7 linked regions of the Homo sapiens genome follow. The gene in region 1 interacts genetically with each later gene. Each region holds a gene or a part of one and is shown on either strand. Other genes may lie near its edges.

Region 1 (3,500 bases):
TCAGAAAGTTTTCTTCTAAGTACTCCTTATCAAGTGTAAATTCATTCCATAAGTAGTTATGAAATTCAATAATAGGAGTGTAACATTCTTCTATCAATTTCCCATGTTTCTCTCCTCTATTCACTCTGTCTATATGGCAATACAAGAAAACACTAAGAAATAAATTATCGCTTAGTCATTAAAAATTCAAAACGTAAGGAAATTAAAACTAAGGTTACATGTGCAAATTAGGATTATGGCATACCTAAAGTCTTAATTTTTTAATTACCACTTCTATATACTGATACAAATTAAAAGATATATACTTAGCATGCAACACAGTTTCAAAAGAAACCATTAATTTACAAAACTGATGATTCACAAAGTATTATCCAACTATGTTGATTTGAAGAGCATAACCTCAAGTTGCCACTTTTATTAAAACAAAAGCCTTATCAATAGTTATAATGCTATAAAGAGAATCCTAGACAATATAATTTGTGCCCCTATATTGATTGAACCAATACCTATAATTGAACAATAGTATACATTTTTATACTTTAATAATGGGAAAAAATGAATCCTACTATATTTAACAAGAAAAAAATGCACTTTTTAATAATCTAAATAGCATAATCTCACAATTTAAGAGCAGACATTTGCATTTTCAAATATATAACAACTGTACTTTAAATAAATTATCTAAATACTTTAAAGAATTCTGTTTTGGTTTAGAACAGGGCCCTCAGAAATAATACCACACATCTACAACCATCTGATCTTTGACAAACCTGACAAAAACAAGAAATGGAGAAAGGATTCCCTATTTAATAAATGGTGCTGGGAAAACTGGCCAGCCATATGTAGAAAGCTGAAACTGGATCCCTTCCTTACACCTTGTACAAAAATTAATTCAAGATGGATTAAAGACTTAAATGTTAGACCTAAAACCATAAAAACCCTAGAAGAAAACCTAGGCAATACCATTCAGGACATCGGCATGGGCAAGGACTTCATGACTAAAACACCAAAAGCAATAGCAACAAAAGCCAAAATTGACAAATGGGATCTAATTAAACTAAAGAGCTTCTGCACAGCAAAAGAAACTACGATCAGAGTGAACAGGCAACCTACAGAATGGGAGAAAACTTTTACAATCTACCCATCTGACAAAGGGCTAATATCCAGAATCTACAAAGAACTCAAACAAATTTACAAGAAAAAATCAACCCCATCAAAAAGTGGGTGAAAGATATGAACAGACACTTCTCAAAAGAAGACATTTATGCAGCCAAAAGACACATGAAAAAATGCTCATCATCACTGGCCATCAGAGAAATGCAAATCAAAACCACAATGAAATACCATCTCACACCAGTTAGAATGGCGATCATTAAAAAGTCAGGAAACAACAGATGCTGGAGAGGATGTGAAGAAATAGGAACACTTTTACACTGTTGGTGGGACTGTAAACTAGTTCAACAGTGTGGCGATTCCTCAAGGATCTAAAACCAAAAATAGCATTTGACCCAGCCATCTCATTACTGGGTATATACCCAAAGGATTATAAATCATGCTGCTATAAAGACACATGCACACGTATGTTTATTGTGGCACTATTCACAATAGCAAAGACTTGGAAGCAACCCAAATGTCCAACAATAATAGACTGGAGTAAGAAAATGTGGCACATATATACCATGGAATATGTGGCACATATATACTATGCAGCCATAAAAAAGGATGAGTTCATGTCCTTTGTAGGGACATGGATGAAGCTGGAAACCATCATTCTGAGCAAACTATTGCCAAGACAGAAAACCAAACACTGCATGTTCTCACTCATAGGTGGGAAATGAACAATGAGAACACGTGGACACAGGGTGGGGAACATCACACACTGGGGCCTGTCATGGGGTAGGGAGAGGAGGGAGGGATAGCATTAGGAGATATATCTAATGTAAATGACAAGTTAATGGGTGCAGCACACCAATATGGCACATGTATACATATGTAACAAACCTGCACGTTGTGCACATGTACCCTAGAACTTAAAGTATAAAAAAAAAATCCGTTTTGTTTTAAAGTGGCATGTTTTAAGAAAAGCTATTCTTAAATAAATCACTGTGCTGTATTAGATGGTTTAGGGTGCTCGATTAAAGCTCCATTCTAATATTCCACTTGATCCTTGGGCTATAGACTGAAATAACATTATTCATTAAATTCCCTATATGTTCTTGAGGTAGATGTTAAGAAACACCTCTCACTAACAATAATTTGTTAGCCATATGCACATGAATGAATTTCTTCAATTATTTAGCTACTTACTGAGAGCCATGCAAGGGATTCCATGATTCGATGTTCACATCGTTCTAAATGTTTTATCATTTCTCTTGTCAAGTTGCCTTCTGCTTTGATAAAACTTTCGATCACTTTGTAAAAATCAAAGGCTTTTAAATTAAGCACATTCAGAATCCATGGGAAAGACAAATCTGTTCCAGAATCAAGATTCTGAGATGTACTTCCTAAAAATGAAAAAAAAAAGTAACTATTTATGAAATATTAACCCTTGAGCTAGGTATTTTTTTGGAAGTTATTATCAGACAAAGAAAACAGTAGAAAGGTTAAACCATTTTTATTTAGAGCAGAATTTTTTATTTTGGAGTCTACGGACTCATAGGAAATAGCCTTCCAATTTTGAGTGTAAGCAAATCTGTGTTTTTCCTAGAGAAAGGACTTATAGCTGATCTCAAATTTTCAAAGATTTAAATACCCTAAACTTATATCAGGAACAGGTTTAGTATCTTATCAGCCATTGGCATATCTATTTTAATTCTCATTAATCCTTGGTAAGAGGATAGACAGATTCTTCAAGATTCTGCTAATTTCATTAGTTACAAAATGGTATCTCATTAAAATATGCATTTCTTGGTTATAAATGAGGATTCACAGTTTTCCTTATCTGTTTACTAATAAGGAAACTAAAAGTTCCTCTTTTTCTGTGTTTTGCATCCTTATACAAATGTTCCTTTTGTTTCTGCAAGCAAAACTTTCTTTTAACATTTGCAACATAATTTGCAAAGTGATATACATTTATGTTTTTAAAAACATTGTAATTGGCCTTTGTTCTGTTTATCCAGTGGATTCTAGCTTCAATCTTTAGTTTCATAACCATGGAGGTTACAGCAGTGCTTCCATATCAGTAGAGGCCACTCTTGAATACTCCTTTGGCACTCTACAATCTCAAAGGTCTTCGGAGGGATTTCAAAAAGTACCTTTTTTGGATTCAGTATACCAGTATACTCAGAAGAGAAGCCTAGTGAAATATTATCCCCAAGATGGCCTCAAATAACTCAAATAAGCCTCTTAAATGGCTTATAATGACCAATTACATTCTTCAGTATATAGTGATCTAAAATAAGCATTCCTTCTCCTTAACCTCACACTATCCCTCTCCCCCGACCAAAGAAACACACCACATTTTAACTTTAAATTGAACAAAAGTGTTTATTTATGAAAAT
Region 2 (3,500 bases), on another chromosome or scaffold:
TTGGCCAGACTGGTCTTAAACTCTTGACTTCATGATCCACCCAGCTCGGCCTCCCAAAGTGCTGGGAATACAGGCCACCATGCCCAGCATCGGCTCATTTTTTGTAGAGAACAGGTTTCATCACGTTGCCCAGGCCGGTCTGGAATTCCTGGACTCCAGCGATCCACCTGCCTCAGCCTCCCACAGTGCTAGGATTATAGGCATGAGCCCCCACACCCAGCCTTCTAAAAGGTTTATTCAGGCCAGGCGAGGAGGTGGCTCATGCCTATAATCCTAACACTTTGGGAGGCAGAGGCAGAAGAATTGCTTGAGGCCAGGAGTTTAAAACCAACCGGGACAAAATCACGAGACCCCCATCTCTGCAACAAATCAAAAAATTAGCTGGGAATGGTGGCACGTGCCTGTGGTCCCAGCTACATGAGAGACTGAGGCAGAAGAATTACTTCAGCCCAGGAGGGTGAAGCTGCAGCGAGCTTTTTCACGCCACTGCACTACAGCATGGGCAACGGAGTGAGACCCTATCTCCAAAAAAAAAAAAAAAAGAAACAAAAAATGCTTTATTCACAATTCAGTTGAACATCTGAATGAATAACTCAAATGAACATCAACCGGTAAATGGATAAACAAAATGCACTGTAGCCATAAAACAGAATAACTATTTGGCCCTAAAAAGAAATGAAGTACTGATACATGTTACAACATAAATGATCTTCAAAAACTTTATGCTGTGGCTCACGCCTGTAATCCCAGCACTTTGAGAGGCCAAGGCAGGCGGATCACTTGAGGTCAGGAGTTTGAGACCAGCCTGGCTAACATGGCAAAACCCCATCTCTACTAAAAATACAAAAATTAGCCAGGTGTGGTGGCGCACACCTGTGGTCCCAGCTACTCAGGAGGGTGAGGCAGGAAAATTACTTGAACCCAGGAGGCAGAGGTTGCAGTGAGCAGAGATCACACCACTGCACTCCAGCCTAGGTGATAGAGTGAGACTCCATCTCAAAAAAAAAAAAAAAAAAAAAAGTGAAAGCCACCAAATATAAAAGGTCATACACTATATGATTCCATTTATATGGAATGTCCAGAAAAAGCTTTTTTTTTTTTTTTTTTTAGAGACAGGTTCTCATTCTGTTGCGCAGGTTGAAGTGCAGTGGCAGGATCACGGCAAACTCAACCTTGGAGACTCAAGCGATCCTCCAACCTCAGCCTTCCAAGCAGCTGAGACTACAGCCGCACACCACCAAGACGGATAATTTTTTTCTATTTTTCGTAGAGACACGGGTCTCACTATGTTGCCCAGGCTAGTCTCAAGTGATCCTCCTGCCTCGGCCTCCCAAAGTGTTGGGATCACAGGTATGAGCCACACTGGGCCTAGAAAAGCCAAATCTATAGAGATGAGAAATAGGTTAGTTGCCTGGGGCTGAGGGTGAGAATCAGAAGTAACTAAATTGGCCAAAACTCTGTTTCTTTTTTTTTCTTTTTTTTTTTTTTTTTTTTTCAGAGACAGGGTGCTGTTATGCTGCCCAGGCTGATTTCAAACTCCTAGGCTCATGCGCTCCATCTGCCTTGGCCTCCCAAAGTACTGGGATTACAGGCGTAAGCCACCATGCCCAGCCCCAAAATTTCTTTATAGGGTGATAAAAATTTCCTTTTTTTTTTTTTAAGATGGAGTCTCGGCCAGGCGCGGTGGCTCACGCCTGTAATCCCAGCACTTTAGGAGGCTGAGGCGGGCGGATTGCAAGGTCAGGAGATCGAGACCATCCTGGCTAACACGGTGAAACCCCGTCTCTACTAAAAATACAAAACATTAGCCGGGCGTGGTGGCGGGCACCTGTAGTCCCAGCTACTCGGGAGGCTGAGGCAGGAGAATGGCGTGAACCTGGGAGGCGGAGCTTGCAGTGAGCCGAGATCGCGCCACTGTACTCCAGCCTGGGCAACAGAGCGAGACTCCGTCTCAAAAAAAAATGCAAGGTCTCACTCTGTTGCCCAGGCTGGAATGCAGTGGTGCAATCTCGGCTCATGGGAAACTCCACCTCCCAAGTTCAAGTGATTCTCCTGCCTCAGTCTCCCAAGTAGCTGGGATTACAGGCATGCACCACCACGCCTGGGTATTTTTGTATTATTAGTAGAGACAGGATTTTACCATGTTGGCCAGGCTAGTCTTGAACTCCCAACTTCAAGTGATCCATCTGCCTTGGCCTCCCAAAGTACTGAGATTACAGGCCTGAGCCACTGCGCCCGGCCGAGTGGTAAAAATTTCTAAAACCTAATTTTGGTGATGGCTGCACAACTCTGTAAATATACTCAAAGTCACTGAATTGTATAAACAAAAAACAACAAAAAACTTGGCAGCAGAATTTCAGTTACTGACATTATAATATATAGCTTTAAAATCAATCTAATCTGATTATGAACTCTCAGTTTACACGAAAGGATACTAATTAATTTAAAATAGACTCCAGGCCAGGCGCGTGGCTCACGCCTGTAATCCCAGCACTTTGGGGCCAAGGCAGGCGGATCACCTGAGATTGGGAGTTCGAGACCAGCCTGGCCAACATGGAGAAACCCCGCCTCTACTAAAAATACAAAAATTAGCCAGGCCTGGTGGCGGGCACTTGTAATCCTAGCTACTCAGGAGGCTGAGGAAAGAGAATCGCTTGAACCCAGGAGGTGGAGGTTGCAGTGAGCCAAGATCGCGCCATTGCACTCCAGGCTGGATGACAAGAGTGAGACTCCATCTCAAAAAAAAAGAAAAAGAAAATAGACTCTAAAACATTACAAGTCTTTAAGCAATCATGTCAAAACTTTAGAGTAGTTAAGATATTAAAGTGAATATATCTTTCTTCAAAACTACCAGTACACAGCCAACATACACAACAAAAACACATAGGGGTGTGTGTGTGTGTGTGTGTGTGTGTGTGTGTGTGTGTGTGTGTGTGTGTGTGTGTGTGTTTAGCAATTAGGTTTCTGTCACCCAGGCTGGAGTGCTGTAGTAGGATAATAGCTCATTGCATCCTCAAACTCCTGGGCTCCAGTGATCATCTCTTCTCAGCCTCTGGAGTCACTAGTGCCAGGCGTGTGCTGTGTGCTACTATGCCCACTATTTATTTTTTTAATTTTTTGTACAGATAGGGTCTTGTTTTGTTGGCCAGGTTGGTCTCGAACTCTTGGCCTCAAATGATCCTTCCACCTTAGCTTCCCAAAGTTCTGGGATTACAGGCACGAGCTATCATACCCAGCCAAAAACTGATAGTATTCTTATAGAATAAATGTTCAAATGCCCCCAAAACACAAAATTTTAGTCATAACTCACTCATGGTGTGACCAAATCACGATAACATGTAATACCAGGAATGTACACTTCATGATTATACCCAGGCAAAGAGATGGGGCAGTATCAAGGGGGAAAAAACCAATTCTCACCATTTTAACTGGATACAGTTTCTTTTATGTGTGGGATATGGGGGTGGTCATGGTTAAAGGTTTTTTTTGTCTTTGTTGCT
Region 3 (4,088 bases), on another chromosome or scaffold:
GGGGGCCAACCCTGGCTGGGCGGGGTTGGCTCTGTCCAGGCGAGATCTGGGAAGGGCGGGTAGCTGCACTCACTGGCACTGGGAGTATGAGGTCAGGGTTCCCAGCGAGATCTGCGATGTGGCGGTACAGGGGGACCCCCTTCTCAGCTGCTCCCGCCTTACACACGGCCAAGGACACGCCCAGGATGGCATTGGCCCCAAACTTGGCTGGAAGGAGGCAAGCGGGAAGAAAGGATGAGAGCTTCTGCAGGGTTTGGGGTGGCTACTCCAGGAAGACGCCAGAGCTCCAAACCACTGAGCATGAAGAATTGGTTAACAGATCTCTCCCCAACAGCCTGAGTAGCCCTGGGAACCCCCACCCCGGGGGAATGTGTCAGCTGCATGTCTGTGTCCACAGCCCGGCCCAGGCCTGGCAGAAGGCAGGCATAGGAAATGCCTGTGGAATGAACACAAATCCATCCAGCTGCGGTGTGACCCAAAATGGGGGACCCAGAAATAACCCATCAGGCCTCACCCCATGGCCTCTCGCCATCTCTCCCACACCTCATCCCTTCCCCACCGCTAGCCCTTCACTCACACTTATTCTCGGTCCCATCTAGCTCAATCATAAATTTGTCAACTTTTTCTTGATCCACAACGCTTAGTTTCTGGAAGGGTGAGTTTGAGAAGGGAGAGCAGAGGTCAGATTTCTCAGAAGTCAGGGCACATGCAGGGGAAGGATAAGGGAAAATGTTTCGGGAGAGGCCTGTCTGGGCTGAGGGAGCAGGGGCATGGGGAGGAGGCTGCAGCGAGCGGGCTTCCCCACTTGCCTTTTGCAGCAGAGCAGGGCCCAGAGTATTGTTGATGTTCTCCACAGCCTTCAGGACTCCTAGACAGGCCAGAGGATGAGTTTTGGAGCTCAATCAACTGGGCCCCTTTCTGTGGACCCCAGCTCCTCAAGAGCCTTGGGGGTTCCAGTCCTCTACCCATTGTGCACCCATGTCCTAAAGCCGCCCACACAGGCTCCTTCTGCGCTGGTGTCTCCTCACCTTTCCCCAGGTAGCGGCCTTTGTCTCCGTCTCTTAGTTCCAGAGCCTCATAGATACCCGTGGAAGCCCCACTGGGCACAGCTGCTCGGAATCGGCCTGGGACAGGAGGAATTGGAAGATCACAGGGATGGCTGGGCGCGGTGGCCCATGCCTGTAATCCCAGCACTTTGAGAGGCCTAGGCAGGTGGATCACTTGAGATCAGGAGTTCAAGACCAGCCTGGCTAACATGGCGAAACCGTCTCTGCTAAAAATACAAAAATTAGCTGAGGCCGGGCGCGGTGGCTCACGCCTGTAATCCCAGCACTTTGGGAGGCCAAGGCGGGCGGATCACGAGATCAGGAGATCGAGACAATCCTGGCTGACACCGTGAAACCCCATCTCTACTAAAAATACAAAAAATTAGCTGTAGTCCCAGCTACTCGGGAGGCTGAGGCAGGAGAATGGCGTGAACCCGGGAGGCGGAGCTTGCAGTGAGCCTAGATCGCGCCACTGCACTCCAGCCTGGGCGACAGAGTGAGACTCCATCTCAAAAAAAAAAAAAAAAAATTAGCTGGGCGTGATGGCACAGGCCTGTAATCCCAGCTACTTGGGAGGCTGAGGCACAAGAATCACTTAAACCCGGGAGGCAGAGGTTGCAGTGAGCTGAGATTGCACCACTGCACTCCAGCCCGGGCCACAGAGCGAGACTCCATCTCAAAACAAAACAAAACAAAAAAAAGGACCTCACAGGGAGTCTCTCTACCTCTCAAAGGGCTGAGGTGTCCTCTCTGAGCTCAGGGACAGGAGGCAGTGCAGAGAGAGACTCCTGCTTCTCCTAGCTTCCAGCTCTGGTTCCACGTTGGAAGAAGGGGGCTTGGGAAGAAGTCTGGGAAAGGGAACCCGAGAGAAAGGAGAGGATATGGCACAGAACTGGGGGGCAAAGGCCAAAGGGTTGGGGTCTTCGGAGGCGAGCCTATCCAATGGGCCTTGTGTTACCCTTGGCCGTGTGCAGGTCCACCTCCACCGTGGGGTTGCCCCTGGAGTCCAAGATTTCCCGGGCAAAGATTTTCTGCATGGCCATGGCTGCAGGACAGGAGGTGTGAGTGAGTGTAGACAGTTGATCTCTTAAGGAACCAGAAATCCCTTGCCCTTTAAGATTCTTCCCCACTCCAAGAAGGCAGGTGCTGGAGCTAAAAATACCCTACAAAAAGGTCACAGACCAAAGAGGCAGGCGCAGCCCCCTCCCCCACTCAGAACAGCTCTTATTCCACCCTCCCATCCTAAGAATCCAGGGGCCTCTTATCTATAGCTCCTGGGATGCCACCGCTCACCAAGCCCCCACCTCCCCCAAGCCTCCACTTAGGCCTTCTCCTTCCACCCCTCTGGTCAAGCAGTCTGTTCTCCATGGCTGGTGGCCTTCAAATCCTTTCTGGTTCTCATTTTCCTGCTCCGAAATCTCCTTGGGCCCCCAATTCCCTATCAGGTTCCAGCTCTAGCTGCCCTTTTCTATCCATCCCTGCTGCCCTCCTCACAGCCTCCTTTCCCTAGATCCTTCGGTGTTCCCAGAGTTTGTCCCATCTGCTTGCTCCAGCCGCCCCTTCCCCCAGCTTTTTCAAGCATCTCCAGTCCCAGGAGGAAAAAAAGCAGAAATGTCCCCCACTTCCTCCAAGCCAATACCATGCTCACCCTTTACTACCTCCACCCCCAGGGCTGGAAGATTCACCCGACCTGGGATGTCTTCGCTGGAGGTTTGGATGGAGCTCCGAGTCTAGGTGGCAGCTGGGACAGTGTCAGCTCACCCCCTCTCAGGCTGCGCATTTATCCCTGAGCCACTCGGTCCCCAGCCAGCCCCGCCTCTCTTTCTCTCCATCCTCCCCCCTTCACACTGGGCTGGCAGCCAAGTGCCCACTACAGCCTGAAGCAGAAGCCTCTGGCCCTGGGCACCTGCCCCCTTACCAAAGGTCAACTACTATCCCCCACTTTCTGTCTCCCAATAACAGTCCCTGTTCTAATTCCACCCTTTGGGAGGAGCAAGGGAGGGGCTACAGATGAGGGGTCTCCCCCCACCCCAGGATTACATTCCCCTTTTGCAAACGTCAAGAGGAATGAGTGACCTTTAGGAAAGGCCAGGGGTAACCTGAGCCCTGCAAGGCTGGGGAGGGGGCCTGGAAGAGGGGCTGCAAGATTGACGTCCACACATGCTCAGATCGCTGGGCGGGCCTCTGTCCTCAGTGGGGGAAAGGACGGGACCCCCCACCCCAGAAGGCGAGAGGGTCTCACCTCTTAGGGTCCTCATAACGGCCATTCTCGGCGCCGCCCCATCCTACCCTCTCCAGGCCAGCCAGCGCCGGGATGAGTTAGGGGACAGGAAACGAATTTAGACAGGCCCTTTCGGCTGGCAAGGCGCCCGACTGATAACGCTGGGACAGCACTTGTCGCCCGGCGTGGGGACTGTCGGTCAGAGCCCCTTTCCCCATCGACTGTGGGCGCTCAGCGCACGGCCCCAGCCCATCAATGAATGGGGCTGAATCAACAGTGAACAAAAATGAATGGACCGAGGACGGGTGGCCTTTTGTGAGCTTCTGCACGCCTGGGGCTCTTCCGGCGCCCCACTTGTAGCACTGCGGGGAGGTAGGTCTCTGCCCTCGGTAGAGATCTCCACTTTGCCGGCTCTGGGGCCAGTGCGGGGTCTGCCCCGAGCTCCTCTGCAGCCATACCAGCCGACCGGCGGGGGACACACGGCGCCTCGGCCCGACTCGGAGGCCCTTCCCGTCGGCGCCGGGGCAGCGCGCGCCCGGTGACTCACCCCCGCCGCCCTCTCCCCACCCCTGCTCCCCGCCCCGCCGGCCCGCGCGGCCTCCCAGCCCCCACCCCAGGCCACCTGCCCCGCCACCCGTCCAGTCTCCCCTCTCGCCCCGCCCCCTCATCTCAGGCCGCTCCTCCCGGGATTTTTCCACCCTGGGGTAGGGGTGCGGTGGGCCAGGGGTCAGGAGATGGCGGGCGGGGAGCGCCGCCACGTGCCCGGGTGCGGCCCCGCCCGAGCCCGCCAGTGACTCAGCCGCGCGGCTGTCGAGGAACAC
Region 4 (4,198 bases), on another chromosome or scaffold:
AATAGCAAATAACTCATATCCAGCCTCCGTGCATAACCCTGTATGTTTTGCCTACCACCGAGGACCACACTTAAATAGGTTGTGCAAACCAAAGCAAACTGCTCATGGAGGAAATATAAGAAATGACTGTACAGTACAAGAGTATTACTGACTATTTAACCCAGAGGTACTTTTTAAGGAGAAGGGAAAAGAACAATGAGAGAATGGAAAAACAAATTTAGAACTATACGTTACCATTAACTGTTTCTGGCATAAAAATCTCTTTTGATTGCATTTTAGTGGGGATTCACACTCCAGATGCACCAAATTTAGCTTCAGCATCAGTATTTGACCAACATCAGACAGTCGGCTTTGGCCTTTAAAAACTAAATAAGGAATGCTAACTTCAAAAACACTTTTGGCAGCCCTGAACCTGTAACTGATGAGTATGGGATGACAGAGGTCACCATTGCATCTAATCAGGGTTAAAGGCAATCATACACAAGCCAGGTCCTTCAGATTTATTTTGGTATGTAAACGTTTGCTTTCAAATATTTGTAAGCATTCTAGATGGAACAGAGTGAAATGCCCCTTATGTGCTTAAAAATGTAAATTTTGGCTGGGCGCGGTGGCTCACGTCGGTAATCCCAGCACTTTGGGAGGCCAAGGCGGGTGGCTCACGAGGTCAGGAGTTCAAGACCAGCCTGGCCAAGATGGTGAAACCCCATCTCTACTAAAAATACAAAAATTAGCCGGGCGTGGTGGCAGGTGCCTGTAATCCCAGCTACTCAGGAGGCTGAGGCAGAGAAGTGCTTGAACCCAGGAGGTGGAGGCTGCAGTGAGCGGAGATCATGCCACTGCACCCCAGCCTGGACGACAGAGCAAGACTCCATCTCAAAAAAAAAAAAGGTAAATTTTATCAGTCGGTATTACAAAAGTAAAAAGCTACAGTAATTAGGGTGAAAGCTGTCAATTTTACCTATTAAAATAAGTAAGAATATTTAATTCAATAAGCACAGTGAACATCAATATCGAAAGACAATTTTCGGTGGTACACTATAGTCGGGTGTGGTGGCTCATGCCTGTAATCCCAGAACTTTGGGAGGCCAATGCGGGAGGACTGCTTGAGGCCAGGATTTGAGATCAGCCTGGGCAACACAGCAAGACTTTGTCTCTGAAAAAAAAAACTTTAGCCAGGATTAGCGGGGCGTGCCTACAGTCCCAGTTATAGGCTCACAGCAGGGGAGGATCTCTTGAGCTCAGGAGATCAAGGTTGCTGTGAACTGTGTGATCAGGCCACTGTACTTCGGCCTCTGCCACAGAGCAAGACCCCAACCCCCAAACACAAAGTGAAACATATCTCTGGGCGTAAATAAATGTTCACCAAAAATTAAATAATTATGCTAAAATAACAGTTTAGATTTTAATTTTAATCTTTTTATAGTTTCCATTATTATCTTGTTAGGATGAAAAGTAGACTGTCAACTCTGCCACCCCAAAATTTCACATGAAGGAAAAACTCCAAAATTCATGTATGACATCCAACCTAAGTAATTTCAATCCAGTAATAATAAAGAACAGAGAAGGATGAAAAGAAAGTATTGGAGAAAAATTAAGTATTCCCAAATTGCTCCTCCACCAACATCATTTAAAAGTATGCATCCACTGAGTAATGCAAATGTGTAGAATACCAGAGAAGCCATCTAGCAGCAACAACACAGGCACTGTAATTTTAAACGTTTATATTTGCTTCCTATATTTTTGAAAAATAAAGTTGTAATAACAACGTTTTGAAAATTTCCAAACTCTTCCTTGTATCCCAGAGGTTCCTTTTTTGCTCTTTGGCTTTGGCTTTGACTGGATACTGATTTTACCCTTGGCCATTCTGCACCTAACCTGACTGTGCACTAGGTCCCCTGCCATAACCTGGATGAAGGTCTGGCTGAGCGTCTCTGGGATCCTTTACAGCCCCTCTAATGCATCAGTCGGGAATCAAAAGCGTGGGTCCCAACTCTGACAGTGACTTTTGAAGAGTTACTTGTCCGCACTAGGTCTCAGTCTTCTCATCTGTCAAATGGGAATAACAACTGTACCTATCTCACATCTGTTGTAAGGATTAGATAATATATTTAGAGAGCTTAAAATGTTTAAAATGTCCGCTACTGCTATCATCACTATAATTGTAGTGTTCAATGACTGTGATTTCACCAGAGGGTCCGTCTGCCTTACGAAATTGCTGTCAAAAGAGCTTACCAATAATCCGTAGCAGATCACACCAGCTCAACAGGCCTCCACCTCCAGGAAGCCCTCCAGGGGCGGGCCGCCCTGCGCTATGCCCTCTGGCTGGACGCGTAGGGCTCCGGCTCACTCCGCCCAAGTCAGCCTCCCGCATCCCGCACGCCCGCGCTGGGGCCCGCACCTGCTCAGCAGGCCCTTGGGTGCGAAGTGCGCTTCTCCCGCCCCACCCAGGGCAGACAGTCCCGAGCAACGGCGCCCGCCGATGTCTCCCGGGCGCCCAGGAGGCCCGGTCTCTCCAGGGCGGTGAGTTCAGGTGGCCCGCCCCGCCCCGGCCGGAGAAACCCCGAAGCCCCGCCGCCGCGGACTCCAGGCTGCACAGGCCCCCGGGCGACGCGGGCGTCTCCGGGGCGGGCTGGCAGCCCGAGGCCAGGAGAGCACCCGCGTGTTGGCCTGGACGCTGTGCTAGGGCAGCTCTTACTGTTTCACGTTGTCCCCCAGGGCCTCGCTTAAGTTCTTCTTGGCCGCCTCCAGCTCGCTCACAAAGGTCGCCATTGCTCCGCGTGTCTCAGCCCGACCGCAGACCGCCCGGCCACCGCGATCAACAACCCAAAAACCAACTCGGCGGAAGGCCTTGGCTCTGGAAGCTAAGCCGGCCGCCGTCAGTCCCGCCCCCAATCTCTCAGAAGTCGTTTGTTTGGTTTTCGGCTCCGCCCGCCTTTTCGCAGGGAAGGTGCCCGGCCAAACTCTGCTCTCTTCCTCCCGCCCCTCGAGTCACGTGATCCGCTTCACCTTGTCGCGCGCCCATCCTAAACCCGCGCGCCCCGCCTCGGCTGCAACGTTGCTGACAGGCTGGCGTGTCCCAAGCTCTTTCATTCTGTTACCGCTGGGGCAATTCCGAATTCAGCCTGCTGTTCTTCTGCCTGGAGGAGTACCTTACCCCTCCATTTAAAAAAGTAAATGCAGTATCAGTTTTACTCTTTCCTTGCCTTATTTTTCCCCGAGCACTAACCGTCTCATATGACATTTAGTTGATTTATCTTGTAAATGTTATGGCTCGAGGACAGGAGTTGTGTTTTATTCACTGTTACCCGCAATTCTCTAGAGCAGCGCCTGGCACATAGTGGATGCTTAATAAGTATTTGAGTAAATGAGGTAACTATGTAAAATTTGGAAAATACACAGAAAGATAAAGATAAAAAGAAGGAAAAAGTGTTTTACCACTCCCGGACAAACACTTAACTGAGAGAGATTTCTCCTTCACTTCGCACACTCCCATGACTTAAAATATTCTATGTTCAATTTTGCACGTTTTTAAACTTAAGGATTTATCTGTAGTATTACATTGTCTTTAGAATAATTTTAATGACAACATATTAAATACCCCCACAGATAGAAGGTACACAACTTGTTTCCCAATTGTTAGACTGTGTCCATTTCTTCTCTATTAAAAAGCAATACTGTAATATTGCTTTTGAAGCATATAGCATAATGAAGCAAAACTTCTTTATGCATAAAACTTTTCCTCCTTTAGGATTATTACTTTAGCATAGAGTCCCACACATAGAATTACTGGATCAAATGATGGGAATATTTATAAATGCCTTGGTGTATATTGTCAAATTGCCTCCCAAAGTTTTTTAAATAATCCTAGATAGCTTTTAGATCTTGTGTAATTTCTCCAAAGATGTCCCCTTAAGTTCATTCATTCAACTTCCTCACTGCCCAACCTAAACCCACAAGCCCTGTCCTGGCTGCAATGCCAGCCGGGCACCTTCTCTTCACTTGAATTCATACAGTGAGCTCCTATTATGTGTCTGGAACTCTTTGAGTACTGGAGATACACAGGTGAAAGGAGATACAAAGGTCAGGCAAAGTCTTCCTCTCTGTGTCAAAACTCTGGGTAAGTTTTGACACATTTAAAAAATATCCACTTAAGTTTTCCATGGCTCCCCACGCTCTGCTGAACAAATTCCAGACTCCA
Region 5 (2,873 bases), on another chromosome or scaffold:
AGTTTGTAGAAAATGTTAGCATTCTGACTACTTAGCATCTGTAGTAATTTCTCTATGTATAGGGATAATTTTTTAGTGGGCAGAGATCCTGTTCTAGTTGCCTGTTAAGCAAAATCTGCCCTCCCAATTGAAAAAGCCAAAGAGAATTGTTAGAGGGAAAAGCATGTAGCCATTGCAGTCTGCATTGCAGCCAGCGTTGTCCAGAGTACACGCTCAGCACTTAGCTTCTACTGTGTGTTGTGGTCTGGTGAGTGTTGTTTCCCCTGAGCGCTCTATTATTTATTTATTTATTATCAATCAGTGACCCTGACCACATAGTGTGATAGGTGCAGCATTCTTCCCTGTGGGAAAGAATTAAAGATGGTTCCATTTCCTAGGCTACAGACAGGAATGGGGCTCTAAATGGTTTTCATAGACTGGCTGTTAAAGGCCAAAAATTTTGGTAAATCAATGCTATATTATGCTCTTGAACTATTAAAACAGCCATAATTATTGTCCCAAGATAGAATATAGTCCTTTTTCAAAGATGATTATACGTGGCTAGGTGACAGACATTAATGACTGACTCTGGAGAGTAAGTCATACCTGCACTCTGTGGACTTGATGGTTCTTTTTCTAGAGCAAACAGAGCGTGGCATTTTGTTTTGACTTGTTCTTCCTTGGGGTCAAATTTATATATATATATATAAATTTTTGTTTGGGCGACCAAGATCTAATAATTAAAACCCAGGTGGACCATGGATTCAGACCTGCCTTTTTATGTTTTTGACTCTTAGGTTCATCGTGTCCCAGACTTCTTCACATATTCGTGAAGGTAAGATATTCTGTGTGCGCTTGGCCTCCTTTTCACGCATATTTCATTGCCTCTTTGATGAGTGGTTACGAAGACGTTAAACTACCTTTTTGTTCCCTGGGGTAATAGGTCAGTAACTATGAGCGCCGTCTCTCTCCATGTGAGCTTGTGTTAATAGACACTTTTATGGTAGAGTTGGGATGGGGCCACCACCTTAAAATGAGTGAGCAGACAAGGCCAGGCAAGCCAAAGGCTTTAAGACACCATGATTTTCTTGTTTTGTTTTAATTGGGAAGGGAAGTATAAGGAAGAGCTCAGAGGGAGTTTCATACCTGGAATTGTTGGACTTAATTGACACTTGCAAATACTTTTAGTATAAAGGTTTAATTCTATTTAAAAAGAAGATCCATTAAATCAAGCTCTTAACTCATGGGACTATTTGCAACACTTCTTTGTAAATATCATTTTGTTTGTTAGGTTATTGGCAAAACAGTTTCAAGGTTCACTTCCCTCCCTTGAACCAGGTCCAGGTCATTTTGCTTTGGGGTAGATTAAAGTCAGAACTCTAAAAGTTGAGCAACTTTGTTTTTTTTTGAATTGATTTAGCACTAACCCACCATTGCATCTTAAGGATGGCATGACGTGATAATGATGGACTTGTGTGAGGTTTTGATTTTTCAATTAAACTTTTTGTTATCACAGGTAATTAATTGTCAGCGGTCTTGAGTCTGGTTATGGAACCCTGTAGTAACAAGAGCTGGAAATTGGCTAATTGACAATGCAATTGCCTTAAACATCTCAAGTAGAGAACATTTACATTAGTGAGATGTACTTGAATTTCAGAACTTAACAAATTTTAATTACTTTTTATTGAAAACTGCACTGAACGCTAAATGTCCACCTTTACAATAAACAAATACAGTAACGGTAACTCACACTAAAACAAAACATACTTCTGATAGCCATTATTTTTCTGTTTGGGACAATTTTAAAGTTTTTCTTTTGTCACAAAAACAGGAATGTACCTATACAAAGGCTCAAAATAGGCCATCTTTTTAAACAAAAAGGCAATGATTCACAAAAGACTATGAATAGAACATGTAACTAGTTGATACAAATCTAATAGGATTTGTTAAAATCAGTCACATCTAATACATCTGAAGTGTTCTTGTATAAAATATCACGTGAAGAAAAGAAGACTTTATCAATGTCTAAAAAAGTGGGTTTGTTCATAGACAATCTGACAAGTTACCATAAAAAGTGTTTCCTGAGACATAAGGAAATGCAACATTATTCTTCTTGAACCCTTTTAGCTCAAGACTTTCCACTCAATAAAATAGCAGAGGATCTGAAACTGAGAAAATATATTTGAGTACAAACAGCTTGTGAAACTTAATACTTTTTTTTTTTTTTTTGCATCATCAGAGGGTTTTACTGAACTTACAACCGACTTGCCCGCTCAGTATGCAGTTCAGATGTGAGAGGCGCTTCTCTGTACAGCAGCCTGTACTGTCTTCAATCCTATGCGTGCAGGTGTCTACCACAGGCAAACAGTTTTCTCCCCATTTTGTAGTAATGTGATTTTCCTATTAGCAAAAAGAGGTCACCAGCCCCTGTAGACTTAAGGGACTCAAGTCACAGGATGGGGATTTCCTCTTAATATTTTTTATTTTGTTGTTTGAACTCTTGATGCAACATTGTAGAGCAGGGTGTTCAGGACCTGCTGTGCCCAAGGGACTGATAAAGGAAAAAGCTCTATTTATTCTTTTTGTGATTTGATGCACAGATGAAAAACTTAACACACAATAACAGAAGTTGGTCGTTAATAAATCACATCCTAGTCTTTCAGCGCTTCCGTAAGCAGACGACATCTTCAGTTTTCTAGCTCTTGTAGTTTCAACACTGCAACATCAATGATGCATATGTCCAGAATCAGTTACAAAGACCATCCGATTCTTTTTCTCTTAGTTCATCTATTTTTCACTGTCTCTTGGTCCCAAGTGTATCTGAGTGATTACCTTCTGGCATTCTCTGCTATTGCTCGTTGGGGTGCTCTCGATTGTCCCCGTGTTTTGTGGGC
Region 6 (3,500 bases), on another chromosome or scaffold:
TGCCTGCTAAGAGCATTGTTGCTGTTGCCACATAAGTACCACATAAAACAGAGAAGAGCCTCCTGAGACCTGCTGTCCATGAAGGCAGCTGCCAAATTGGGAACTCTAATAAGATCTGGCCTCAGGCATCAAATGACTCCCAAGTTGTCTTTATTTTGTTAGTATGTGGCAAAGAAAGAAGGGAAGCCTGTGCCTGCTGTGCCATCACACACGCATCTGCAGAGGGATTACCAAGTCCCCTGATACTTTGTTTAGAAAAGCAGCTTGAACCCAGTCTCAATAGGAAGCTGAAATGTGTTAGATGGGGCAATGATCAACAATGGAAAGCTCAGTGGAGAAAAGTTAACCAAAATAAGAACGTTCCACTCATGTCACGGGAGAGGTAAAATAAAGCTGAGCATTTATGACTCTGGGGAATTATTTGTTGTGAACCAGCACATGATTAAGGGTTCTCCACACTACAGAAAAGCTAAGGAAGGAAAGAATTTCTTTAAGCTTTTGGAAAGAGAGTTCCAATGTGCCACAAAATGTTCTAGCAAAAGAACCTGGGACCCACTACTTTGGACTCCAGGGATACAATGATCAATTTGTCGTTTTGGGCTCTGATGCCTATGATTTCATGAGCTCAGAACTATGAATACTATTAATATGACCAGTCTGGTCCAAAAATCAAGCTCAGACATTTGACACAGAACCTTCAGAACTATTGAATTCCAGACAGGAGATGAATGCTCTGTGAAGAAATCATTTCCTTACTATTAGTTTCTAAATCTGTTGAATATAAATTTTATAGTAGTCTTTTAAGTCTTGTATTATTTAAATCAGAGACAGGGAGAGAGGAGAGGAACAAAGGAGGAGGAATAAGAGAAAAGAAGGAAAGGCAAAGGAGGATAAAGTCAGGGAACGGAGGGCAGAGGAGGGGAGAGGAGGAAGAAAATGAAGAAAAAAATCATTCTTTTAAAATATGTTCCCTAATTCTTGTTCAAAAGGCTACACTATAGACTATATTTCAGAAACCAGTTTTTATAAGTCATACATAAGGCCTAACAAAAAAAGAAAGGAAAGAAAAATTACTGAAGTGCACCATTTCTGAATTCTGTTAGGCCTGACACATGGTATAATGCTCAGAGACATGGGAGATTTAAATAATGGGCTCATTTCTTTTTAAACAGAAGGTACCAGAGATTCCATTTCAAAGGAACAGACTACTAACCTAAGATATGAGAGAAAAGCTCTGAGACCTTTCTCAGGCTGGATTTCATGAGCTAGTCATACCAGTTTCTGCAGGAATGCAGAAATTATTGCAAAATGGCTAGGTTCCATAAACATGTTGGTAAAGTTTAACTTTACAGATAAGAAAAAATAATTTCAAAACAAATTTCCACCCTTTCTTAAATTAACTTTATCTTGTTATAGGAAGAAAGAAATCCAGCAGCTTACCTGTATCGAATCCCACGCTGGGCACTATGTCTACTGTTCCATGAAAGGCTCCAGCCCATGCTGAGGTAGCAGAGGTGACTGTAGTTGGTTCTGTCTTTGTGATGTCACACTGGGGAGCAGGAATCCTGGCCGCATGCACTGAAGGCATCAGCAGAGGCCCATAGGATGGATCCAGGGCAGAGCCAGCAGGAGGGTGGTGATGGTGATGATGGTGGCGGTGGCGGTGGTGCATGTGGGCATGAGGGTGGTGGTGCCGCATGTACACGTCATGCATATGGCTGTAGGATGGGCTCACCTGAGATGTCAAAGGATAAGGCCAGGACTCAGACACAGCAGGGGGAGGGGCTGGGCCAGTCTGATGCAGGTTGTGTCCCGGCCAAGGACTGGGATCAGCTGCAGAAAAGGTGCCAGGGGGTCCAGTGACCTGGAAGTCAGGATGAACTCCCCCCAAACAAGGTGCAGGTGGGGGCTGGTAAGAGCTGGTCCAAAAGGAAGTTGGGAAACTATTCCGCTGGCTTGAGAGAGCTGAGCTGTCTGAGAAGACAGAAAATAAAAAACATTATTAACATAAGACTCAGTTTTGGGATAGACTTGCCTCTAATTGTCCACTCTAATTGTCCAATAATATTTTACAAGCAGTCAAATTAGCATGCACTCTTATTCTCCCCAAACAGGGGTGAATTGATACCAGGTTGGCCTCTGGGCTCGCAAGCCAATGGGTCCATGTGCAAGATCCAAAGTGTTAAATGAGCCTCCCTCCATTTGCTTTGCTTGGCTTATGCCGTCACAGTCTGTGCTAAGGTTTGCAATTTGGGGATTGAAAAATTTCATTTCCTTCTGAGTACCTTGCAGCCATTAGGCCTAAGAGGAGGTCATATCTACCCACTTCACTGGTAAAGAAATCTTATGCCATAAATGAGGTTTGTATAAGTTGGACATGATCATTTTTACCAACTTCTAAATGCAAATACAATTTTCATTTAAATGAAACATTTTAATGCCGAAGGTAACAATGGAAGTAAGATTACAATTACTTATACTCACTAACACTCATTTTCCATTAAGAAGAGTGTATTCCAACCTCATTTTATTTATTTATTTATTTATTTATTTATTTATTTATTTATTTATTTTCTGTGGAGATCTGGGAGTCTCTAGACCGAGAATAAAAATGGTCAATATTTAATGACAGTATCAAATGCCCAACATTTTTCCAGGGGCTTTTCATGGATAATCTCATAGGAGTTTCATTCCAGGCCTATGGGGTAGTTATTGTTATTATTCCCATGATGAGAAAATCCCAGTAGAGAAGAAGCCTAAGGCTTAAGATGGCAAGAATGGGACTAGGCTTTGAAGCCAGGTGGCCTAAATGGCCAATGGCTGGGCCTCTTCATAAAGTGCCACAAGAGGGCGCAATTGTAACTGTGAACCTCAACATCTCGAATTTGGTGAAGATCCTATGGAAATGATGAGTGGAGGAAATTCAAGTAGAAGTCATGGGTTTGAGGAAGTATTTTGGGGAGAGGGAAATATCAAAGAATAGCACTTAGAGACGAATAAGAAAGAAAACGATCCCCTAACTCTTCATCAGTTCAATTTCCTACTCAATCGTAATAACACATTTATACACGACCTACTATGTATCAAACATAGGCGTCAGGGATGACCAAATGGACATCATTTTTAGTCACAATCTGCAGAAGGATAGATAAGTAAAAACAGACATGTGCAAGGTGACACGGTAGGTATTCTCCCAACAGGAAGCACAGAGAGCCCCGACCCAGCTTAGAGAGTGATAAGTGGAAGCTGACAGACTGAGTGGGGGCTAGCCCTGGGAAGTAAGCTTTAGGCAAATGGATCAGCACATAAGAAAAGGCCATATATTACACACACGCACACACACACACACACACACACACACACACACACACATATGACAGCAGCAGCATTTGAAAGACAAAAAGAGTTCCATAGGCAGAAGGTGGCAACAGAAAAATTGAGACTATTGAAATGAGGACCAAGATGGGTGTAGACTTGCTGGCCATGGTACTGAATGTAAA
Region 7 (3,500 bases), on another chromosome or scaffold:
GGTGGTTGAAAGGCAATTTTTGTTTGTTTCAAACTTTATTCCCAGGCTTCTTTAGCTTAATTAGCTACAAAGAATAAATTGTGGGCTGGGCATCGTGGCTCACGCCTGTAATCCCAGCACTTTGGGAGGCCGAGGCAGGTGGATCAGGTCAGGAGTTCGAGACTATCCCGGCCAACATGGCGAAACTCTGTCTCTACTAAAAACACAAAAATTAACCAGGTGTGGTGGCTTATGCCTGTAATCCCAGCTACTTGGGAGGATGAGGCAGGAGAATTGCTTGAACCTGGGAGGTGGGGGTTGCAGCGAGCCGAGATTGTGCCACTGCACTCCAGCCTGGGTCACAGAGCAAGACTCCATCTCAAAAAGAAAAAAAAAAAAGAAGAAATTGTGTATAAGCAAAAACTGAAAAGAGCTGCAGTGTCCAACAGGAATGGGGCTTAAAATATTAGAGATCTAAATTTTATCAGATCCATAAACAATTTCAGAAAGCAGTCATAATGTAAAATAGCAGCTCCTAGTTACTTCATATTTTTTCTTCTTCAGAAGTTGACTCAATTCAGTTTGCCTCATTCTTAATAGCCTCATCAAAACTCCTTACAAGATCTAGAACTTCATCACCATCCCCTCCATTAGCAAGCAGTGCTTTTCCATCCACAGACTATTTGGGCAGAGCTTCAGTCGGTCTCCTTAAACTAGTCAGATTGTCTGCACCAAGCTGGTTTAAGATGCTGGTAGCATTTCTATCAGCTGCGTTGTCTCAGCATGGCCTGTAATGGTGAAAGTGTTCACTGCCCCAGAGAAATGCTACCAGCATTTTAGGTTGTTAAAGTGGATCTCTGGTCTTCATTTGTAAACATACTCACCCCTTCAATACCAGAGATATTGTTTACCCTTAACTTCTTAAGGAGAACTGAAGTTTTTATCATCTGCTGTAGCTGAACCACCTTCTTTCTGTTTCTTTTCCATCATTACGCAATTGTGCCTGCAATTTGGTTGTTTCTTTCATCTTGTCAGCGTGGAAAAGGGTCATGTGGAGGACTAGGGTTGGTGCTCAAGGGGTCCTGGGTAGACCAGCTGAGATTAGATGCACACATGTGCAGATGCAAGATGGCACAATTTCTGGTTTAAATGGTCATATAAAAGAGGCAGTTTCTGGCCGGGCACGGTGGCTCATGCCTGTAATCCCAGCACTTTGGGAGGCCGAGGCAGGCAGATCACGAGATCAGGAGATTGAGACCATCCTGGCTAACACGGTGAAACCCCATCTCTACTGAAAAATAGAAAAAATTAGCCGGGTGTGGTGGCGGGCACCTGTAGTCCCAGCTACTCGGGAGGCTGAGGCAGGAGAATGGTGTGAACCCAGGAGGCAGAGCTTGCAGTGAGCCAAGATTGCGCCACTGCACTCCAGACTGCGTGACAGAGCAAGACTCTGTTTAAAAAAAAAAAAAAAAAAAGAGGCAGTGTCTTTGGGAGGCTGTGATGGGAAGATAGCTTGAGCCCAGCAATTCAAGACCAGCCTGGGCAACATGGCAAAACCCTATCTCTACAAAAAGTACAAAAATTAGCTGGGTTGGTGACACATGCCTGTAGTTCCCAACTACTTGGGAGGCTGAAGCAGGAGGATCCCTTGAACCCAGGAGGTCAAGGCTGCAGTGAGCTGTGATTGAACCACTGCACTCCAACCTGGGTGACAGAGAGAGATTCCCTTTTTTTTTTTTTTAAATTAAAAAAAGAGGTTATTTTGTTCCTTGATCAACCTACAGATTCATTTTGCTCAAACATTTCATGTATAAAGATACTTCTATAAAACTTGGGCGTATATTATTATTTATGTCACTCTATGGGAAAATTTGGCTTTAGTTAAGATCCGGAATGCCAGGAACCCATCTGCCTGTACCGTGGGGTCAATAAGGAGGAAATAACTCCTAGACCTGTTTGTTGAGGAGGCTACTGAGACTGATGGGGATGTTAAAAGGTGGCCAAAAATTGGGAAGAAAGATAAGGCCTGCCTGACAGTTTGGGAGTACGGGTCTAGAGGACAAACCCCTGAGGAGGGCTTTGAAGGTAGCAGGCTCTAAATTTAATTCAGGTAGTTTTACCTATATTTCATTTGTGCATATCACATATATGCATCTTGTGATATACAGTCTCTCTTGCTAGCTACATTGGCACTGATCACATTTTTACATAGGGCTAAAACACAAAAAGAAGAATGACATGTTATTGATTAAAATGGCTGATCATACCAAGGAGAGCACATCCAGCTTTTCCACAAGCTTTAGCAATTCCAGCAACAACAGCTTCAGTTACACTGAGGTCAAGTTTTCCACAGGAAAAGTAATCAAGGAAGAAGAGGGGCTCTGCTCCTTGTGCCAGAATATCATTAACACACATTGCTACCAAATCTTGACCAATGGTATCATGTTTATTGCATAGCTGGGCAATCTATGTAAGAACAATATAAACATCCACATTAGGGAATAAGTTCAAAATTGTATCTTATCCATTTGATTAGCTGCTCTTAACACCTAAAAACAAAAGAACACGAAATTCTGACAAGCTACTTGGTCTAAAAGCATCCCCTTTTATCCTCTAAAGTACCCTTCCATCCAAATATAATCTAAATAATAATTTGTTATTAGAAATGTGCAGATATTTTAGCCATTTTACATGGTTATTTGGCATGGTCCTTTTTAGCTCATATATGTCAAGAGAAGAAAAATACATATTTGATATAAATTTCCTCATCTTTCCTAAAAGGCCTTTATTCACAAAGGTGTCTGATTACCTTTAGTTTAGTTCCAACGCCATCTGTTCCAGAGGCCAGAAGGGGATCTTTGAAACCAGCTGCTTTTAAATCAAAAAGACCAGCAAAACCTCCAAGATCAACTTTACAGCCTGTTGGAGAGGAAATTAATTACTTGCTACATTTTAATAGATTAAACATGTAATTATTTAAATGTCTACTAGTTTAAAAAAACCAGTATATTTAGCGGCCTGTGAGATGTACTTCTGGAAGAAATAGATGATTGGAACAGCTGTTCTCAGAGATGACATAATCAAATCAACTGGGAGAATGTAATCATTTAATAGATTAACATGTAACATGTTAATAGGTTAAACATGTATATACATACCACTTGTTCATAAGAATGGCTGAAACAAGAGATGCCCTTCCTGAGTATGAGAGATTGCACCATGTGCTCAAAGAATTGATTAAGAAAGTAATTAAGGCTGGGCGTGGTGGCTCACCCCTGTAATCCCAGCACTTTGGGAGGCCGAGGCGGGTGGATCACAAGGTCAGGAGATCGAGACCATCCTGGTTAACACAGTGAAACCCCGTCTCTACTAAAAATACAAAAAAATTAGCTGGGCGTGGTGGCGGGCACCTGTAGTCCCAGCTACTCGGGAGGCTGAGGCAGGAGAATGGCGTGAATGCAGGAGGCAGAGCTTGCAGCTAGCCGAAATGGCACCACTGCACTCCAGCCTGGGCGACAGAG

The links.
Region 2: changes in RB1 (region 1) and RPS6KB1 together harm fitness more than expected from each alone (negative genetic interaction), as found in Homo sapiens cells (one large-scale study listed by BioGRID).
Region 3: changes in RB1 (region 1) and ENO3 together harm fitness more than expected from each alone (negative genetic interaction), as found in Homo sapiens cells (one large-scale study listed by BioGRID).
Region 4: changes in RB1 (region 1) and TADA1 together harm fitness more than expected from each alone (negative genetic interaction), as found in Homo sapiens cells (one large-scale study listed by BioGRID).
Region 5: changes in RB1 (region 1) and CTBP2 together harm fitness more than expected from each alone (negative genetic interaction), as found in Homo sapiens cells (one large-scale study listed by BioGRID).
Region 6: changes in RB1 (region 1) and VGLL3 together harm fitness more than expected from each alone (negative genetic interaction), as found in Homo sapiens cells (one large-scale study listed by BioGRID).
Region 7: changes in RB1 (region 1) and GART together harm fitness more than expected from each alone (negative genetic interaction), as found in Homo sapiens cells (one large-scale study listed by BioGRID).

Annotation. Positions count from the first base shown.
Region 1 is NC_000013.11:48,380,251-48,383,750, reverse strand, and holds part of RB1 (retinoblastoma-associated protein), read right to left. Parts: intron 2,505-3,500; coding exon 2,308-2,504; coding exon of another isoform or gene 2,296-2,307; exon of another isoform or gene 1-2,295. UniProt on the Homo sapiens protein: Tumor suppressor that is a key regulator of the G1/S transition of the cell cycle. The hypophosphorylated form binds transcription regulators of the E2F family, preventing transcription of E2F-responsive genes.
Region 2 is NC_000017.11:59,899,621-59,903,120, reverse strand, and holds part of RPS6KB1 (ribosomal protein S6 kinase beta-1), read right to left. Parts: intron 1-3,500. UniProt on the Homo sapiens protein: Serine/threonine-protein kinase that acts downstream of mTOR signaling in response to growth factors and nutrients to promote cell proliferation, cell growth and cell cycle progression.
Region 3 is NC_000017.11:4,949,831-4,953,918, reverse strand, and holds the start of ENO3 (beta-enolase), read right to left. Parts: upstream 2,801-4,088; 5' UTR 2,737-2,800; exon of another isoform or gene 2,695-2,736; intron 2,092-2,694; coding exon of another isoform or gene 2,090-2,091; coding exon 2,005-2,089; intron 1,125-2,004; coding exon 1,029-1,124; intron 869-1,028; coding exon 810-868; intron 648-809; coding exon 578-647; intron 208-577; coding exon 74-207; intron 1-73. UniProt on the Homo sapiens protein: Glycolytic enzyme that catalyzes the conversion of 2-phosphoglycerate to phosphoenolpyruvate. Appears to have a function in striated muscle development and regeneration.
Region 4 is NC_000001.11:166,873,465-166,877,662, forward strand, and holds the start of TADA1 (transcriptional adapter 1), read right to left. Parts: upstream 2,801-4,198; 5' UTR 2,770-2,800; coding exon 2,696-2,769; intron 1-2,695. UniProt on the Homo sapiens protein: Probably involved in transcriptional regulation.
Region 5 is NC_000010.11:124,986,691-124,989,563, forward strand, and holds part of CTBP2 (C-terminal-binding protein 2), read right to left. Parts: coding exon 2,828-2,873; 3' UTR 1-2,827. UniProt on the Homo sapiens protein: Corepressor targeting diverse transcription regulators. Functions in brown adipose tissue (BAT) differentiation. Isoform 2 probably acts as a scaffold for specialized synapses.
Region 6 is NC_000003.12:86,967,150-86,970,649, forward strand, and holds part of VGLL3 (transcription cofactor vestigial-like protein 3), read right to left. Parts: intron 1,975-3,500; coding exon 1,441-1,974; intron 1-1,440. UniProt on the Homo sapiens protein: May act as a specific coactivator for the mammalian TEFs.
Region 7 is NC_000021.9:33,518,118-33,521,617, forward strand, and holds part of GART (trifunctional purine biosynthetic protein adenosine-3), read right to left. Parts: intron 2,899-3,500; coding exon 2,789-2,898; intron 2,446-2,788; coding exon 2,247-2,445; intron 1-2,246. UniProt on the Homo sapiens protein: Trifunctional enzyme that catalyzes three distinct reactions as part of the 'de novo' inosine monophosphate biosynthetic pathway.